Linked DNA regions of Homo sapiens. The protein of the gene in region 2 interacts with the protein of the main gene of each other region in a pairwise test. Each region holds a gene or a part of one and is shown on either strand. Other genes may lie near its edges.

Evidence for each region. The genes of interacting proteins can lie anywhere in the genome.
Region 1: the proteins of ATN1 (region 2) and EFEMP1 interact in binary tests that used the Homo sapiens proteins (3 or more experiments, as listed by UniProt).
Region 3: the proteins of ATN1 (region 2) and CTNND2 interact in a two-hybrid assay, tested with the Homo sapiens proteins (one study listed by BioGRID).

What each region holds. Positions count from the first base shown.
Region 1 is NC_000002.12:55,913,768-55,920,798, reverse strand, and holds part of EFEMP1 (EGF-containing fibulin-like extracellular matrix protein 1 precursor), read left to right. Parts: intron 1-2,531; coding exon 2,532-2,580; intron 2,581-2,747; coding exon 2,748-3,134; intron 3,135-7,031. UniProt on the Homo sapiens protein: Binds EGFR, the EGF receptor, inducing EGFR autophosphorylation and the activation of downstream signaling pathways. May play a role in cell adhesion and migration. May function as a negative regulator of chondrocyte differentiation.
Region 2 is NC_000012.12:6,937,955-6,942,848, forward strand, and holds the end of ATN1 (atrophin-1), read left to right. Parts: coding exon 1-113; intron 114-526; coding exon 527-1,223; intron 1,224-2,925; coding exon 2,926-3,069; intron 3,070-3,419; coding exon 3,420-3,600; intron 3,601-3,792; coding exon 3,793-3,826; 3' UTR 3,827-4,367; downstream 4,368-4,894. UniProt on the Homo sapiens protein: Transcriptional corepressor. Recruits NR2E1 to repress transcription. Promotes vascular smooth cell (VSMC) migration and orientation. Corepressor of MTG8 transcriptional repression.
Region 3 is NC_000005.10:11,901,432-11,908,801, reverse strand, and holds the start of CTNND2 (catenin delta-2), read left to right. Parts: upstream 1-4,355; 5' UTR 4,356-4,948; coding exon 4,949-4,985; intron 4,986-7,370. UniProt on the Homo sapiens protein: Has a critical role in neuronal development, particularly in the formation and/or maintenance of dendritic spines and synapses. Involved in the regulation of Wnt signaling.

The DNA.
Region 1 (7,031 bases), on a different chromosome or scaffold from region 2:
GCAATGTGTAAGGTAAGTGGCATCATCTTCCTTCCACTAATGGTAGAACTGAAGATCAGAGAGAGTGTCTAACTTGCTTAGGGCTACATAGCCAAGTGGTGAAGCTAAACTCAGTCTAGGCTTACTTAATAGTACACTGACATTAAATGTCTAGAAGTAAATACCTAAAACAAATTGCAAGTCTTCTCTATTTACCATACAAATTATTCAAGTGAACTGCCATTTTTGCCTGGCTTGAAAGATACTTTTCAGAAGAATGGGCTCGTATCCACATAATAGCCTCATAGTCCTCTTCCATATTAAAGATGGTGTCCATTCAGCTGTTTACTCAACAACTATCTGCATAAGCAATTCTCATCACTATTAAAAGAATTTGTTTGTTTACTAAGAAAATTCAGTCTCCTCTTGGAGAATTTAGCCTGGGAAGACAGTGTTGAAAACTACAAAGTTCCTAAGCAAGGACAAATGATACTATTATACAGATTATACAAATTGCCAAGGAAATAGAAAAGCAAGGAGGTGATTAATGTTGGTGCCAGCATATTAGAGGAGACAGAACTCTGTGCTGGTTCTTGAAGGAAGTGATGACCTTGGTTGGATTGATCTAGAAAGGCTGAAGAGGCACCTGAGTCAGAGAGTGGCATAATCAAAAGCTAGAGCTGAAAGCACCTGAGACCAATCCAGGTGGTGATAAGGTCAGATCAGCTGGAACTGGGTAGTGGGAAGAACCCAGAGATGGTGATGATGAGAGATCTGCAGGTCACTGTGAGGTCTCAGAGAGAGGAGCAACATAACCAAGAGCACAAGAAAGATCATGGGGTCTGTATGCAGCATGTAGAGATGCGGGGCCTTGCCTACTCATGGGCCAGCAAAAGCCTTTCTTAGTAGACATGGTAGAAATGGACACAAAGTCAGCAGAGATGGAAGGAAAATAAGTGGAGCATTCAGCACTGATGTTAAAGTTGGAATCCTGGGTTTCGAAAAAGGTAGTGGTACCTTTAACACTGTTTGGGAAACAAGAAAAAAATTAGTCTGAGAGACAAAGTGAATTTAGTTCTCGCTCCAGTAAGTTTCAGACATCAGTAAAATATCTAAATGGATCTCTGGGCTTCCATTCAGCTATTTCCTTGTCAAGCATCCATTGTGTACATAAGCAGCTCTCAGTTATATTAAAAGAATTTAAGTTTATTTGTTTGTTTACTCCACTTTTGCTCAATCCTTCCTTGGGCTTCTTCCTTACAGTGACTTTCTCAAATGAGCGTCTGATCAGATTGTTTCCTGAGCTTAAAAATTCTTCAGAGGCCTCTTATCGCCTGTAGCAACATTTCTCAAGAAGTAGTTCCTAGACAACCTGTATGGGAATCGCCTGGGATACTTGCTAAGAATTTAGATTCCAGGCCCCCTACCCAGACCTACAGAATCAAATCCTTTGGGTGGGCCCAGGAATCTTCATTTTAACAAGAACCCTGAATGATCCTTAGACACAATAAAGCTTGAGATTCACTGACCTTCAGGGTAGAATTCAGGCTTCCATTCCTAAAGAAAGGCTTTCTTGTTTTGGCCCTGCCTACCTCTGTAACCTCATCCTCCACCTACCCAGAACTCCTTGCAGCTCCTTCCCTTTTCAAAAATTTTATGCCTTTGTCACAATAGCCTCTCTTCCTAGAATTCCCACATTCACCTGGAAAAATCCTGCTCATCCTGTAAAGCCTGATTTACTGTCACCTCCTCTGTCAAGTCTTCCCTTCTGCCCTGCCATGCTCACCCATGCCCCCGGGCAGAGTCCATTACTCCTTCCTGCATACACTTGTAGAAGGCACCTGCCATCTTGCTGCAACTTGTCTACCTATCTGTCTCCTCTTCTGGTCTTTGAGCTGCTTGAGGACAGGGACAAAGTCTGCATCATCTTTGCATCCCCAGGCCCTAAAACTGCCTGGTTTCAGAAGGTGATCCATAGGCTGTTTGTTCAGTGGGTGAACTAGAGAGGAGATTGAAGCTGGGAACTGCTAGGAGGAACACCTCTGTTCCTTAGGAGCTGAAGCTAGGGAGCAGGTCAGGGTGTGAGATGGAGGTGCTTGAATGCTGTAAGAGGATTTAGAGAGAGAGAGAAGAGTCCAGGGCTGGTTGGGGGTGGGGGCGGGGGAGAGGGCGAGGAAAGAGAGAGAATTTGGTCTTTTTTTTTTTTAACATTTCCAATGTGGGAAAAAAGGCAAATTAATAAAGAGCAGTCAGAGAAGTTGGAGAAGATTAGTCTCAAAACAGAAAAGAAGATGGTACTGGGCAACTGTACCAAAAAGAACAGAAGAGTTTAGGCAGCTGATGGTTGAGAATGGACCCCCGAAGCTGTCCAATGCACAGACTTGTCTTTTGAAAAAAAAGCGATAGAATGTTAAACCACCCATCTCATCATATATCTAGGACTTTAGCACAAGGATTGTTGCCATAAGAATGAAGCTTTTAGAGTGATTTCTTAGGGAATGGACACACCAATTAACTGTCTCCTGGCCCCACCTTTGATGTTTTCTTCACAGCAATGCACTGACGGATATGAGTGGGATCCTGTGAGACAGCAATGCAAAGGTGAGCCAGCTTCAAAGACTTCCATGTGATCATTGCCTTCTGTCTCCATCTCTTGTGTCACTCTTCCTGTCCTGTCTGTGTTATACCAAAAAGGCATGAGCATTATATTTACATGTTTGATTTTTCCCTCTTAGAAGATTCCTGACTTATTTTATTACTGACCACAGATATTGATGAATGTGACATTGTCCCAGACGCTTGTAAAGGTGGAATGAAGTGTGTCAACCACTATGGAGGATACCTCTGCCTTCCGAAAACAGCCCAGATTATTGTCAATAATGAACAGCCTCAGCAGGAAACACAACCAGCAGAAGGAACCTCAGGGGCAACCACCGGGGTTGTAGCTGCCAGCAGCATGGCAACCAGTGGAGTGTTGCCCGGGGGTGGTTTTGTGGCCAGTGCTGCTGCAGTCGCAGGCCCTGAAATGCAGACTGGCCGAAATAACTTTGTCATCCGGCGGAACCCAGCTGACCCTCAGCGCATTCCCTCCAACCCTTCCCACCGTATCCAGTGTGCAGCAGGCTACGAGCAAAGTGAACACAACGTGTGCCAAGGTAGGAATAACTTATTTTCCTAACCATTGAAAGCTTTTGCCCAAGTGCACCTCGTGGTGAGGATGATGATAATTTATTAAGGACTTCTCGCGTGCCAGACATCATGCTAAGTGCTTTGTCTGCATTATATTTAATCATCACAATATTCCTAAAGGGTAGTTGCTGTAGTTGTCATCATTGCTTTACAAATGGGAAACTGTGGCTTAGAAAGTTCATCAGTGGTTCCCAACCCTAGCTGCCCATATTTAGAGTCACTTGGGAACCTTTAAAACTTCTCGATGGCGAAGCTACACCCCAGCCCAGTTAAATCACAGTCTCTGAGGTGGGTTCCAGGCATCGGCTTTTTTTTCAGTTCCTCATGTGCGGCCAAGTTTGAGAACCAGAGGTCACACAGGTGCTAAGTGCAGAGCTGACCTTCCAACCCAGGAAGGCGGGTGCCAAAGTCACAGCTGGCAAAAGTCACCATCAGGTTATTCACTGGGAATTTGAAATTATGCTGTCAAGCTACTCTACAGATGTACCCCTTTGGTTTCTCAAGTTTCTTTTCATCGAACTTGCCACAGACTTATTTTCCTCATTCAGGAGTAAAGAAATGGGGCTCCTGCTTCTCATTACCTTGGAGGGATTCTCCCCCACTCACGTTTATATCTCTTTTAAGCTCTCATTTGACGACGTTTCACTTATATCACTTGCACCATGGCATCATCTGCCTAGGGTTTTCTGTTTATTTTCACAGAGCATACACATCACTGTGTATTCTAGAAACAGCTGTAGGCTCGTATTAGCAAAGTGATAAGAATCTGGGGCTTTGAAGACATGTAGGATATTAGCTAACTGAACTGTGCTATGAGATTGTTTCCCTTTCTTCTTGGCAAACCATTTCAGAGCAGCCTGGTGTGGAGACTGTGTTACTGAAATGGGGCCATAGGAGCCTCCAGACTCCTTTCTCCCTGCCAGAGGCTGATTAGGTAGATCCCATAGTGCAGAACTCCATGTCACCACCACATACGTGTATGGCACACGTGGGCCAATGGAAAGGGTCCAGGAGTTCTTACTTTCTAACTGGTCATGTGTAAGGAAGAGAGCACCTTCCTCCCTTAACACCAAGGGTTTCAATAGAGACCACTGAGCTGCTACATTAAATGAAAGATGCATTTTCTTGTGCCCTGGGATGCTGCCCCTTATTCACCCGTGTTTAGTTTTATCTTCTGTGTAAAAGATACTCGAGTTTAAATGGCTTAAAAATGAAGCAAGGGGCTGGGCACGGTGGCTCACGCCTGTAATCCCAGCACTTTGGGAAGATGAGGCGGGTGGATCACCTGAGGTCGGGAGTTCAAGACCAGCCTGGCCAACATGGCGAAACCCCATCTCTACTAAAAATACAAAAATTCTCTATGAATGGTGGCACATGCCTGTAGTCTCAAATACTAGAGAGGCTGAAGCAGGAGAATTGCTTGAACCTGGGAGGTGAAGGTTGCAGTGAGCCGAGATCATGCTACTGCACTCCAGCCTGGGCAACAGAGTGAGACTCTGTCTCAAAAAAAAAAAAAAAAAAAATGAAGGAAACTTGTCATGCTCTGACTCTTATTTATTTCATATTTTGTTTGTAAGCTTTAAGTACCCCACATCAAGACCTAACCCATGTTGTGATGGTGTCACTTTTCAGAGGGTGCATCGTATTAGCATCTGTTTCGTGTTACTGTCATGAGTCAGAATTCCAGTATTGATGATGAATGCTTCAGCATCTGCTTGATATTCTGATATTGAATTTAAGGATTATGTCAAGGAGATAAAATGATGAGGTTATTCTTATACATGTATTTGGGTTAATACTGATAAAAAAAATCTTGAGTTTATTTAAGATAGACCAACTTTTAATTGTGTTATTTAGTTATATAACTAGACTGGAAAGTTTGGTAGTATTTTTCCCAAAATCAAAAAATTTTGCTGAAAAATTCTTAAGTATCAACTTTTATATACTGAATTATTTTGAATACTTTAGATGTGTACTTTAATGGTACTTGGGAGAAAAAAAAACCAGATAAATGAATGAGTCATTTCCCAAAGTAGTTTGTAGACCGTCATTGACATTTATGGTTGAATTCAAGAACAATGCCCAGAACTAAATGAAGAGGTCCTAGAATAAAATATATTCAAGACTTACAACATGTATTGGTTACGGTAGAAACTGTACTGTGATTAATGAAAATAAAATCCTATTTAACTTTTCTAGAAAATATTTAGACTACCTAACAAAGTAAGTTACGTTTCACATAGTAAAACATTTATAGTTCTTTCTTCTTTGGGAATTTTTTTTAGTTATAAGCAGACTATTAAGTGCCTTGCTTATGGAATATGCTAAATACATACCTGTTGACTGTGTGCACACAGGTTATTTCCAACCCAAATTGATCTGTGTAATTCAGCCAGTTTCTAAAATTTGGGATTGGTGTCTATACCATTGAAAGCAGGGTTAAAAGTTTTTTGGAAGGCTTAGGGCTTAAGTTGGATTTCTTCCCACCTCACAATTTTGCAAAGTGCCCATAAATGTGGATTTACTTAATTGTTGATAAAAGGGGGTTATTTCATATGATAACAACAGGATAATCTGTCTAGGGAATTTGACTAACATAAGTCGAGTCACACTTGTGCCCATTTCTTATTGAGCTAATCAAACATGCAGTCCAGCTTCTTCTAATTGCCTGCAGATGTATGACATTCTCATTCCAGGCCAGCAGCACAAAATAATATTTTATAACCAATGTGGAAGTATGGGGACCTCTGTTTAGAACAATAATGTGCTCTAAGGACCTATATTATTGACATCATCATGGAGTTTGAAGAGTCTTCTGTTTTAATAAAGATCTCCACTCCCTTTTAAATGTTGCATATTTATGCCCAGTAATCCAGACACATTTCCTATGGTCTACTGGATAGAATAAATGAATCTTACAGATGAGTCTTATTTGCATAAAAATTATTTCTTTTTTCTATGTATATTTTTTAGCAGGTATAGTTTATCATTATATAACCTAAAACTCAGGACATTTTAAATGTAAGAACTGAAATCTGTACTGTGTTTCAGTCTTCAAATCAATTGTGCCTTTGAATGCACTATACCAGTCACAGATGGCTTCTAAATAATTTAAATAATACCACTAGATATTTTAAATGTACACTATTTTATAAATATATCCTTTAAATAGCTGTCCATTTAACTGTTTAATGAAAACATGATATGTTTATTCCCCTTCATGTATTTTTGGGGGTGTTTTCAGTTTTGTACAAAAACAAGGAGTTTGAAATACAACATAACATTCAAAGATCAGGTCACAGTGAGCAGGTTTTTTTCAGGTAATTTTTTGCTAAATGAGGATCATGCTGTGGGAGCCAGTAACGCTGGGAGTTTCCCATGACTGACATTATTCTTGGCATCTATAAAATGAAGATCATTTCAGTGTTACATACCTGGGGCCATGTATAGATAGAGTTTTCGAAATTAATTGTTTCCATTAGATATCATCTGCCTCAAAGACAACAGATACTCATCTACACCAAAAAGAAGTTGAATGAATGGGGAATATATTATAATCTGTTGATGGCTCACTTTAGTTTTCTACACCTTTATTGCATAGTCTCTTTCTCCTTTTTTTTTGAGACAGAGTCTCACGCTGTCACCCAGGCTGGAGTGCAGAGGTGCTATCTTGGCTCACTGCAACTTCCACCTTCTGGGTTTAAGCAATTCTTGTGCCTCAGCCTCCCGAGTAGCTGTGACTACAGGCGTGCACCACCACACCCTGCTAATTTTTGTATTTTTAGTAGAGATGGGGTTTCACCATGTTGGCCAGGCTGGTCTCGAGCTCCTGACCTCAGATGATGTGCCCACCTCAGCCTCCC
Region 2 (4,894 bases):
AGGTGCGGCGCGAGGCCGAGCAGCGCGCGCGCGAAGAAAAGGAGCGCGAGCGCGAGCGGGAACGCGAGAAAGAGCGCGAGCGCGAGAAGGAGCGCGAGCTTGAACGCAGCGTGGTGAGTGCGTCACTGCCTGCGCCACCGCCTTCTTTCCCTCTTTCCTTCCTTCCCTCTGCGCTGCGCTGCGCTACGCTACGCTGCGGGGCTGTGGCTGGGTGGGCGGGCGAGTCACGTCGCCACCTGTCGGAGGGGAGGTACCACTGCAGCCCAGGAAATGGAGCCCAAAAGGTTTTCAGCGAGAGCCATCTGCATTCCTGGGTTGGGAAAAGGCATGCTCAGATGGGACTACCTGTGGATCCCAAGAAGGGCAAATATTCGGGAGCGGGGGCCGCAGTTAAGTTCCAGGTGGGCAGAGTTTCAATGAGTTGAGGCATTTTGGCATTCGGCTGTCGAAACAAATGGGCAGCTTAAAACCAGCCACCTCTTTTCATAACTGCCGCTTTGACTCCACTTTTCCCTGTATCCCACAGAAGTTGGCTCAGGAGGGCCGTGCTCCGGTGGAATGCCCATCTCTGGGCCCAGTGCCCCATCGCCCTCCATTTGAACCGGGCAGTGCGGTGGCTACAGTGCCCCCCTACCTGGGTCCTGACACTCCAGCCTTGCGCACTCTCAGTGAATATGCCCGGCCTCATGTCATGTCTCCTGGCAATCGCAACCATCCATTCTACGTGCCCCTGGGGGCAGTGGACCCGGGGCTCCTGGGTTACAATGTCCCGGCCCTGTACAGCAGTGATCCAGCTGCCCGGGAGAGGGAACGGGAAGCCCGTGAACGAGACCTCCGTGACCGCCTCAAGCCTGGCTTTGAGGTGAAGCCTAGTGAGCTGGAACCCCTACATGGGGTCCCTGGGCCGGGCTTGGATCCCTTTCCCCGACATGGGGGCCTGGCTCTGCAGCCTGGCCCACCTGGCCTGCACCCTTTCCCCTTTCATCCGAGCCTGGGGCCCCTGGAGCGAGAACGTCTAGCGCTGGCAGCTGGGCCAGCCCTGCGGCCTGACATGTCCTATGCTGAGCGGCTGGCAGCTGAGAGGCAGCACGCAGAAAGGGTGGCGGCCCTGGGCAATGACCCACTGGCCCGGCTGCAGATGCTCAATGTGACTCCCCATCACCACCAGCACTCCCACATCCACTCGCACCTGCACCTGCACCAGCAAGATGCTATCCATGCAGGTGAGACCCCTCCTTCCTTGCCCTGGCCCTTTGGGGCCACCTTCCCCCTATCATGACTGGGCTCTTTCATTCCTATGGCCAAGACTTTCCTCCCCTGGCCTGGCATGAACCTTTCCTGAGATTGCTGCCCTGAACTTTGCCTCCCTGACGTTCTCTCAGCCTTGTCTTCTCATGGCCTTCCCTGGCCACAAAGCCTGTATGCCCCACAGCCCAGTTCTCTCCATAGTCTAGTATCCTTCCCATGACAGAGGCCCACACGGGAGCTTTTGAAGGACACTTTTCTATTCTCACAGCCCCATTCTCCCAAGCCCTTCACAAACCTGTCTTCTTATTTATTTTTTTGAGACATGGTCTGGCTCTGCCACCCAGGCTGGAGTGTAGTGGCGCAATCACAGCTCACTGCAGCCTCGACTTCCCGGTCTCAAGTGATCCTCCTACCTCAGCCTCTGGAGTAGCTGGGATTACAGGCGTGTGTCACCATACCTGGCTACTTTTTGTATTTTTGGTAGAGACGGGGTTTCGCCATGTTGGCCATGGCTGGTCTCAAATTCCTGAGCTCAAAGCGATCCACCCACCTCGGCCTCCCAAAGTCCTGAGATTACAGGCGTGAGCCACCGTGCCCAACCCACAAACCTATCTTCTGATTTCTCTGGATTCAACTCATTTTTTGCCATTTTCTCCTCTTCTCCCTCTGCGAGGTCTTTCATGTTTTTCCCCATCTCTAGATCTGTAACTTTCTAGAAAGGGCCCTGTAGCTTTGGGTTTGGGTGTCATAGGCGATAATGAGCTTTACTTACTATCCTTTCACCATTTTTTGGTTTTTGAGACGGAGTCTCGCCCTGTCACCAAGCTGGAGTGCAGTGGCGCGATCTCGGCTTACTGCAACCTCCGCCTCTGGGGTTCAAGTGATTCTTCTGCCTCAGCAGGCACTGCCTGCCCGAGTAGCTGGGACTGCAGGCGTGTGCCACCAAGTACAGCTAATTTTTGTATTTTTAGTAGACACGGGGTTTCACCATGTTGGCCAGGATAGTCTTGATCTCTTGACCTTGTGATCCACCCGCCTTGGCCTCCCAAAGTGCTGGAATTACAAGCGTGAGCCACCGCACCCGGCTTCCTTTTTTTCTTTTGCCCAGACTGGAGTGCAGTGGCGCGATCTCGGCTCACTGCAGCTTCCACCTCCCAGGTTCAAGCGATTCTCCTGCCTCAGCCTCCCGAGGAGCTGGGACTATAGGCGTGTGCCACCCTGCCTGGCTAATTTTTTTGTATTTTTTGTAGAAACAGGGTTTCACCATCTTGGCCAGGCTGGTCTTGAACTCCTCACCTCAGGTGAGCTGCCTGCCTCAGCCTCCCAAAGTGCTGAGATTATAGGCTTGAGCCACTGTGCCCGGCCTCTTCTTGTCTTATTTTCTAAACTTCTATCATCTTCCACCTTCTTCACGCAGTCTACCTCTCTCTGTCCTTCCCCTCAGACCCTTCTGATGACTGTAATCTCCTGTCCTGTGTCATCCATATGTCCCTCCTCCAGTAGGGCTCAGCCTGTCCACCCCTGCCAGGCCTCTAGTTCTTCCACTCTGCCTTTGTTCCACTTTGGACCTCCTTGTGTTTGTCTGACTCAGTTCCCAGGCTTGGATCCCTTCACCCAAATGCATGGTTTGCCCCAAACCTGCCTTCTGGTGACACCTTCCTCTTCTCTGCCCTCCAGCCTCTGCCTCGGTGCACCCTCTCATTGACCCCCTGGCCTCAGGGTCTCACCTTACCCGGATCCCCTACCCAGCTGGAACTCTCCCTAACCCCCTGCTTCCTCACCCTCTGCACGAGAACGAAGTTCTTCGTCACCAGCTCTTTGGTAAGGATGGAAGTTGGGGTAGGCAGCTCCAATGAGAAAAGGGCAGAAAGGAGGTATTTGGGTGGGGGGATGGGCCTAGTTGGGCTTGGGGAGGGATGAGGAGGTGCCTAGAGGAGCTGGGCATGGGAATAGGAGAGCTGGAGCTCTGCCCAAGAGAAGCACGAGTTTTAGTGTCAGCCTAAGAGGTTCGAATCCCAATTCCACCCTACCACTGGCAACTTACAGAACTGGGTGTGTTACCTCACTTTTTAGTTCATTACCTTTGTATGTAAAGGAGCTGGCTATCCCCTGGTCCAGAGCAGGTACTTGTTATCCGTTGGTCATATGCCCCTTGCCCTTCCTGCTCACAGCTGCCCCTTACCGGGACCTGCCGGCCTCCCTTTCTGCCCCGATGTCAGCAGCTCATCAGCTGCAGGCCATGCACGCACAGTCAGCTGAGCTGCAGCGCTTGGCGCTGGAACAGCAGCAGTGGCTGCATGCCCATCACCCGCTGCACAGTGTGCCGCTGCCTGCCCAGGAGGACTACTACAGGTACCCTAGGGTGCCCCAGCCCAGGGGACATGGGCTCAGCGAGCCTGGGAGGAGCTGTGGGCATGGTACGGCTGGGCACCGTGCTCCTGGGGGAGGGAACCCCTCCTCTCCCAACCCCTTCGGTAAGAGGGGGCAAGGTCAGAGTTGGTCTCAAGTCTCTTACCTCTCTGCTATGCACTGCCCCTTCCCTAGTCACCTGAAGAAGGAAAGCGACAAGCCACTGTAGAACCTGCGATCAAGAGAGCACCATGGCTCCTACATTGGACCTTGGAGCACCCCCACCCTCCCCCCACCGTGCCCTTGGCCTGCCACCCAGAGCCAAGAGGGTGCTGCTCAGTTGCAGGGCCTCCGCAGCTGGACAGAGAGTGGGGGAGGGAGGGACAGACAGAAGGCCAAGGCCCGATGTGGTGTGCAGAGGTGGGGAGGTGGCGAGGATGGGGACAGAAAGCGCACAGAATCTTGGACCAGGTCTCTCTTCCTTGTCCCCCCTGCTTTTCTCCTCCCCCATGCCCAACCCCTGTGGCCGCCGCCCCTCCCCTGCCCCGTTGGTGTGATTATTTCATCTGTTAGATGTGGCTGTTTTGCGTAGCATCGTGTGCCACCCCTGCCCCTCCCCGATCCCTGTGTGCGCGCCCCCTCTGCAATGTATGCCCCTTGCCCCTTCCCCACACTAATAATTTATATATATAAATATCTATATGACGCTCTTAAAAAAACATCCCAACCAAAACCAACCAAACAAAAACATCCTCACAACTCCCCAGGAACATGGCTGTGACTATTCTTTGCGGGATATGGGGGTGAGGCTGGGTCTCAGTGCAGCGGTGCTTAGAGAGAACTGCAGCCAGGGCCTGGCAGGGAAGCGGGAAGAGACCAGACCTTCTTAAGGAACGGGGTGTGGGGGCTGGGAAGAATTGGAGAGGGGATCCCTGAAGAGCCCAGAGCCTTGACTCAGCTGGAGGCGGTACCATGGGTGCTGGTGCCCCCTCCTGCCCCAAGGCTGGGCAGGACCGCTGCGCGCCAGTGGAGGCCTCGGTCTGGGCTCTGTGGCTTATGCCTGTGAGACGCGGGTGGATTGCTTGAGCCCAGGAGTTGGAAACCAGCTTGGGCAACATAGAGAAACCCCATCTTAAGACAAAATCAGCTGGGGGTTGTGGTGCACTTGTGGTCCCAGCTACTCAGGAGGCTGAGGTGGGAGGATCACTTGGGGGTCGAGGCTACAGTGAGTCATGATCGCACCACTGCACTCTAGCCTGGGTGACAGAGCAAGGCCCTATCTCAAAACAAACAAACA
Region 3 (7,370 bases), on a different chromosome or scaffold from region 2:
AAATATATAGACATGATGAAATATGACAAAAAGGTAAGCTACCTGACTCTGTAATCTGAATGTGATGTATTTTCAAATTCCTAAAAATTCAGTGAAAGCATGAAACACAACCAGTTTACCAAATGGAGATCCCTGTAAATTCTCATGATTAGTCTGCATGATATAATTACCTGCATGTAGGAGAAATTTAGTTAATGATTATTTGAAAGAAATGAATATGAAAAAGCTCACTGGCAAAATGGTATCTTCTAGGTGTCTTGATGACTGAATAAGATATGCGCAATCAGATAATAAGTGTGTTTTGATATAGCAAGCCGACGAAAACAGCAGAGGTGAAAGAGATATTCTAATGTCATGACTCATGTTCACCATCATTTACTAATTGCTCCCTATTTGCCAGGCATAGAGCCATTTGCTTATCATAGACTGATTCATTCATTTAATTTTCACAACAAAGCAAGAGGCAAGATTTGGCTTATTTATGGGTAATAAAATGAGAGCTTCAAGGATTTCATTTTAATGAGTAAATCAATTTCAGAACGTGTATTCTGTACAAACTTGAGAGTGACACTGGAGTGGGTAGAGAACATTAAGGAGAACAAAGACTGAAAATGAGGTATTTCATTTTGGGAGACAGTATAAAAATCGTTGAGGTGGACTCATTGTGCAATGCTTTGAACATGAATTTATTGGTCAGTGACAATAAAAAACTGGTCTTATATTATTCCTTAATTTATCTTCTAATACATATGATTTAGACCATATTCATTTACTCACTTTGTTGAAAAAATGTTTTAATTTTTGGAAATACATTGTGGGGGAAATACAGTAATAACAGCTATAGTGAGCAGAGGGGAGACATTACAGATAACATATATTTCAATTTGAGCTTGAATTTGATGCAGGTAACAGAATCCAACCACCACGGCTTAATCCAATATAGATGAACTTTCCTCCCATAACAGGAAGCCAATACACTGAGGCACACAGACAATTAGGAAGAAATGAGGACATTTGTGTTCCTCATTTCAGCTTCTGGTGGTGATTACCTCTCTGCAGTGCTTCAATTTCTGCTTCCCCCATAACCCCAATTCATAATTAAACTCTGGGAGGATAAGGAATTTGTTGTCTTCTCTATTGTTTGCTACTAATTCTCCAAATTTTGGCCAATACTGAACCACAGCGGATGGATGCTCAATAAACATTTGCTGAATGAATGAATGATACCATCATAGGAGTTGCAGCAATAATAAAAGGCAATTTGAGTGAAAATGTGAAGTTTGCAATCAAATAGTGAAATGACCCACACGTTGATCTTAACTAAAATGGTTAGTTTAAATTAGTTAACTACTTTACAGTCTTCAAAAACTTAGAGATACTTTCAGGTAACAAATATCATAACTTTTATGATCAAGAGCAAACAGTGTGTGTTAGCCTCCCAAATATATACACACATGTACTTATGATGACACTATTGGGTTACTATTTCAGGTAATTTGCTTTAAAATTTAAATTGTGAATTGAAAGAAGTATCATTACTCTCCCTATTTAAATGCTGAACAGCAACAATAATCACTCACCTGATTTCATTTCCCAATTTGAAAATTTCTCAATTGTTTATCAATGGGTAATTCACTTAAAAAATTACAAAAATATTATCTTCTATTTGAATCTCAATAGCAACAAACAATGCCATATTGAAACAGCTGTGACTTAAATAAGAATGCCATTCTCCTAAAATCGACATACTTTGAATTACAAAATAAGACACATACATTTATAAAAAATATTTGGAATTGTTAGATTTTATTTCTAAAGTTAAGTTACACTTCCATATAAAAACGTTTGCTTCAAATTTTGAAAAGTGATTTGAAAAATCAAGAGATATAGCATTTAGTATTTATATGTGATTTCTGTATCAGATAACTCTATTAATGCATAAACAGAAGAAATACAATGAAGGTTTTTCACTGAGCATTGAGTACTGTAATTTGAAAATAATAAACTAATAATGTTCTAGTCTCATAGTGAATTTGAGGATTCAGAATATTCCTTTATATAGGAACTATCGGAAGCAGGAGGCAAAAGATGGCAGCAGTGAGTCGTTCCAAGATCTAACATTATACATGTTCATTTTGCTTTATTTTTCAATATTATCTAATTGTGAATTGAATAATATCTTAAGTTACAAATTATTCTAGAATAATAAAAGTCATAAATGTTTCAATGAAATGGGGCACTGAGCAAATGAAATCAAAGCAGTCCAGGACATTGGACTTTACCACTCTGCTTCCTAAATAACCATATCACACCAGCCCCAGCCCCAACAGTATCTGTAGGGACTGCCTCCAGCTCATTTCCCAGACACACAATTAGTTGATAGAATTTGTCATTGCTCATCTCGATAGTAACTAAAAAACGTTAGAAAATTATTTTCTTTACTTAGATCTATATCAGGCATAAAAGACACATATATTACCTGTGGATAGCATCTACACATCTACCTCCATTTTAATCTAAAGAGTAACTGATGTCCCCTCATCTCCCTTTCCACCTCCCCACTGACTTCTTGAGTTAGAAGATGCAAAGAGAAAACCAAACGATAGCAGACTGACAGAAGCTCAGGTGGGAACTAAGAACATCTCTTGAAATATAATGTGGCCTAATGGATATGGTGCTGCTAATTTGTCTTGTACCACGTACTCAGTGTAATTGAACTGCCTTTCTGAGAACTAAGATAAAAATTACAATTAAACGTGTGATGAAAAAAATGGTCTTGCATGTCTTCCCTCACAGGACTCAGGATATTTTAATATCAAACTGGCTTTAAGACACTTGGAGTTAGCTTGGAGAACTGTTTTTTGCAGGTGAGACAAAGCCTGTGTGTGCATGTCCACACCTGGGGTAGGAGGAATAAAAGCGAACATTTGTACTGTTGTCAATAGTCTGCTTAATCTGCTCCTCCTAGCAATTATTTGTTACCTATTTAACCTCTGTACCGCTTTTCTCCTTCACTCTTACTTCCATTTATATTTCAACTTACTCCCAAGTATAATAAAGAATAGACTTGAATATTCAAATCATTTAAGTTTGTTGGATAATCTCTTTCAACACAAAATAGAAGCACAATGTTACTGAGAATCGTAAGCACCAAATCCCTTTTATTACAATTTCCTGCATTCTGTCATGCTTATTTGTGTTTCAGAAACAAGCTCTGCGGGGGTGGGGGGGGTGGGGGGGGTGGAGGAGATCACAACCTCAGACAGTCTGCGGTGTTCAGGGTCATGCCCGTGGCATAATTAGGAGGAACATTCGACCTGGCCCCTGGGCAGGCTGTGCCCTGCTTGGCTTGGCTTGTGAATGCAGCAGACGTGAGCCCCGTCCTGACTGCTGCTGAATCAGAGGGACAGGGGCGAAGGCCCAGAGGCCTTCCTTGGCACATGTTTTGGGTTTCGTTTTTCAACAAGACTTTGAATACGGTGATTCCACTTGCTGTATTTCACAGCAGGCTACGCATGGGGAAGTCCCGATGGGGTCAAGGAGCAGTCAAGCCAGGAGGTGATATGGAAAACTGATTTGAACGTGAAGAAGGCAATGCGAGATGCACTGGAAGACTGTGGGGAAGGATCAGGGGAGTGGTTCACTTTGAAATAAGGAAGAAAAGGAGGAAGAGAAGGTGGCAGAGATGCAGCAGAAGATACCAAGAGAGGAGGACAAGGTGGCACAAGAAGGGGAGGAGAGAGAACTTAATCTGCTCAAGTTCCAGACTGGGCAAGGGTCTTTCTTGCAGGAAGTTTACAGACATTCCAGTTTCAAATCTGAAGTGATTTTGCCTAAGGAGAAACCCTCACTACCCGCCAAAAACATGCCATCTGAACAGGGAAGGTGATGGCAAGATTGGGCAGGTGCTGTGGAGAAGACCTCTGCTGGACTTCGTGCCTCCTTAGCTCTGGAATCACAGGATCTGCAAGAGCATCTACCTGCGCTCACCAGCACGTTCCGCCAGCCTCCCTCCCCCAACCCACCTGGCCACTCTAGGACCCCTCGCACCCTGGTCCTTTGTTGCAGGCTGACATCTGCCCCACCAGAGTCAACTGTCAGCGCCTTGCACGTGAATTAGGGAAGCGGAGTAACCTGGGGTTCCATCCCTTCCCGGGTCCCTTCCAGCTTTCGCCTAGCTCCGGAGCATCCACCCATCTCAGGTCCAGGGCGTGCGTTCCCAAGGATGCTCGGCCCTCTCCCAACCCGCGGCCTCCTCCCCTCTCTCCCGCGGCTGCCGCTGCTGCCGCGAAAACCAGGAGAAGTGGAACGCGCGCGGCGAAGCGCCGCTCTCGCGGCGGCACTGGGCATGCTCCGCACCCGGGGCCGGTTTCGGCGGCGGGGCGGACGCTCCCTCACTAGCCGGGCGCCCGGGCCGGCCGCCGAGGTTTAGGTGGAGGCTGAGGCTGCCGCGCGCCGCGGGAGGAGCCTCGCCCTCGGCGGCTGAGGCGGCGGCGGCACAGGTGGCGCGGGCCGCGCGCGGGGCGCAGCTCGGGAGCGCTCGGCGCCGGGCGCCGCGGCGGCCCCAGGCTCGCGCCCGCGGCGACAGCCGGCTGAGCGGAGCTGCGGGCGCGGCGGCTGCTCTCTCAGCCCGGCCGGCTGGCGGCGGCGCCCGGAGCCCCGAGGAGCCCGCAGGAGCCCGTGGAGCCCGCGGAGCCGGGCAGGGGGCGCTGCGCTCGCCGAGCTCGGAGGGGCCGCCGGGCCGGGCGCTGCGCACTCGCGTCGGGAGCCGCCTCTCGCCCGCGGCGCTCGCCCCTGCCGCCCGCCAGCATCCCTTGTCCCGCGGCCGCGCTCAGACAACAAAAGCGGAAGATGCTGCAGTTGGGCAAGGTCAGGACCTTGCCCTGAAGCCGGGCGGCGCCGCGCACGCCTCTTCCCGGACTGAGGAGCTGTCGCCGGCGGAGGGTGCATGTTTGCGAGGAAGCCGCCGGGCGCCGCGCCTTTGGGTGAGTTGCGGGGCTGGGCGGCCGGGGCCGGGCGCAGCCTCCTCCCGGCGCCGTCCTCCTCCTCTTGCCGCTGGTGGGGGTGGTCCTGGGCTCCCGGCCGGCAGGCGGCGGCGGCGGCTGCTGCGGGGTTTCTGCCTGCCTCGGGGAGGACCGCGATCGCGCCAGGTCCCCCTCGGAAGCCGCTGTGCCTGGAAGGGGGTCCGGGGTTAGTGCCTTTCTTGGAGCGGTTACCAAGTGGCTGCCCTGCGTGCTCCCCCTCCCTGCCACCCATCTCCCCGGGAGGAAGCGTATTTAGGGCAACACCGACAATGCTGCTCCCCGCCACCCTGAGAACATACTCGGTGCATTCATGACGTCCCTAATATACGGGAGGAGACGGGGTGGGGGTGGGGAGGACTTCCCTCCAGTCTTTTGCCCTTATGTTCAATGTCATTACGATGTTTGGCTAGAACAAAATGGAAAGACTTAGTCATATGCGTCCATGGCCGTGTCTTCAGGCTCCCGCGGCTTGCCAGACCCTGAGCCCCCTTGGTCTATATTTAGCGGCTTCCCAGCAAGCCTTTGCAGCCGGCTTCACAGGTTTCGGGGGCTTCTGCGTGCTGACAATAGACAGCCAGGCTCCAGAAAGCGCCGCCTGAAAGCCAGGTTTGGAAGGCTGTGCGTGTGTATGGGAGATGAGCGATGCAAAATTGGGGTGATCCGTAATTAATGGCTGAAAGCGAAGCTGCTTTTTTCTTTTTTTCCCGACCCTCATCTTATTCTGGTGTGTAGTGTGTTTTCTTCGATTGCCACTCGGCAGGTTGAGCCTCTGCTTTCAGAATTAAGTCACTAGAAAGGTGATGCAGCCTCCCTGGTGTTTGTGGTAGGAAAACAGACTTGGGAATTTTTGGGGTGTGTGTGTGTGTGTCACAAATAACAGTTACTTCCAAAATGCCCAAAGTTGTATTTTGCTGTAACCGTGGGGGTATGAAGGGTGTGGGAGATGAGAGATAGAGGGGCAGGTTGTGTTTCCAAGGTGTTTTTTTTTCTTTTCTTTTCTTGTGTGCCTCATTTGAGCTGATCTGATTCGCCTTAGCTCTGGCAGGTGTTATTAAGATGTATTTTTACTGTGCTCAAGCAAATATGTTGATTTAGAAAACAGAGAATGTTGTCAGCATAGTATTAGGCCTGACAGGTGTAAATTTTCACTTTTAAGAACTATGTGACCAATATTTAAGAGTCTTGGGATTTTCTGCAGTGACTTCCATGAAAACAAGGAGGTGCTGAAACTCCCTAGGAGTTATCTCATTGTGCATACTTCATCAGGGGCTGAAGCTACCGAGGGCAGTCCAGCTGGTCTCTGCTGCTGGTCATTCACCTACATAATGACAAGGCTTCGGGGCTGCACCACTTCTAAAATCCCATGGAGAAGTGTTTGCTGTGACTCATATCAAGTTATGGCGGTGAACCTGTCATTATTTTGGGGATTTCTGCTACGAGACGTGTGATATATAGGGGCGAGTATCCTCAAATACGAACTAGATGCTTTAAACTGCCCTCAAATGTCTTTTATTAGCATATGGTTGCCATACGGAGAATGTTCCTACTGTTGTTGGGGAAAAATGTTAAGTGGCATCATTACTGATCTGTGGGTTCCAAGGGCTCAGGGCTTGAAGGAAGACGATTACATTCGGAGTTAAGTGTTGAAATTTGGGAGGCCTTTGATTACACTAATCACAAGTCAGTGTTGCAGGAGGACTGGCAAGGTCTATACGGCTCAAGTTGATTGAATACTGTGATTAGTCTTTAGCAATATTGCTTTAGTTTCACCTTATTCACATTCAGGGAACTTTCCGAGAGCACTTTGAACACACCGTTATGCCCACTGCATTGTTTTAATATAAAATTTCTTTCAAAAGCAATAGATGAAGTAGCATACATGTCTCGTTTCCTTTTCTTTTTTCCTTTTGAGCCTAGTGTTTCATTCTTAAACATGATTTTTAAAGGACTAGTTGATACTGCTCTGTGCCTGTGTGTGTACCCAGAGCGGCCGATGGGCATGTGAAAAACTACATATACTGTATATGTGGGTTTTATGTTATATTGTGGATTGAAAATGATATTATCTGATTGAATGGCAATTGTGGTAAGTACGTGAGGTTGTTGCCCTAATAAAATTGTCATAGTCTTGCGGAAAGGAGTTATTTAATTTGGTGTACGTTTGTGTAGTTGTATAACCCAGTCATTATAGATGTCACTAATGTTTTCATTGTTCGTAATAAAAGTCATACACTGTCAAATTACAGTATTTCTATCCACTTTACATCTTTCACAATAGAATATAAGCCAATTCTTTCTCCCAGTGAAATTGTTCATCAGAGACAAAAATGAAATTCAAATACTAGT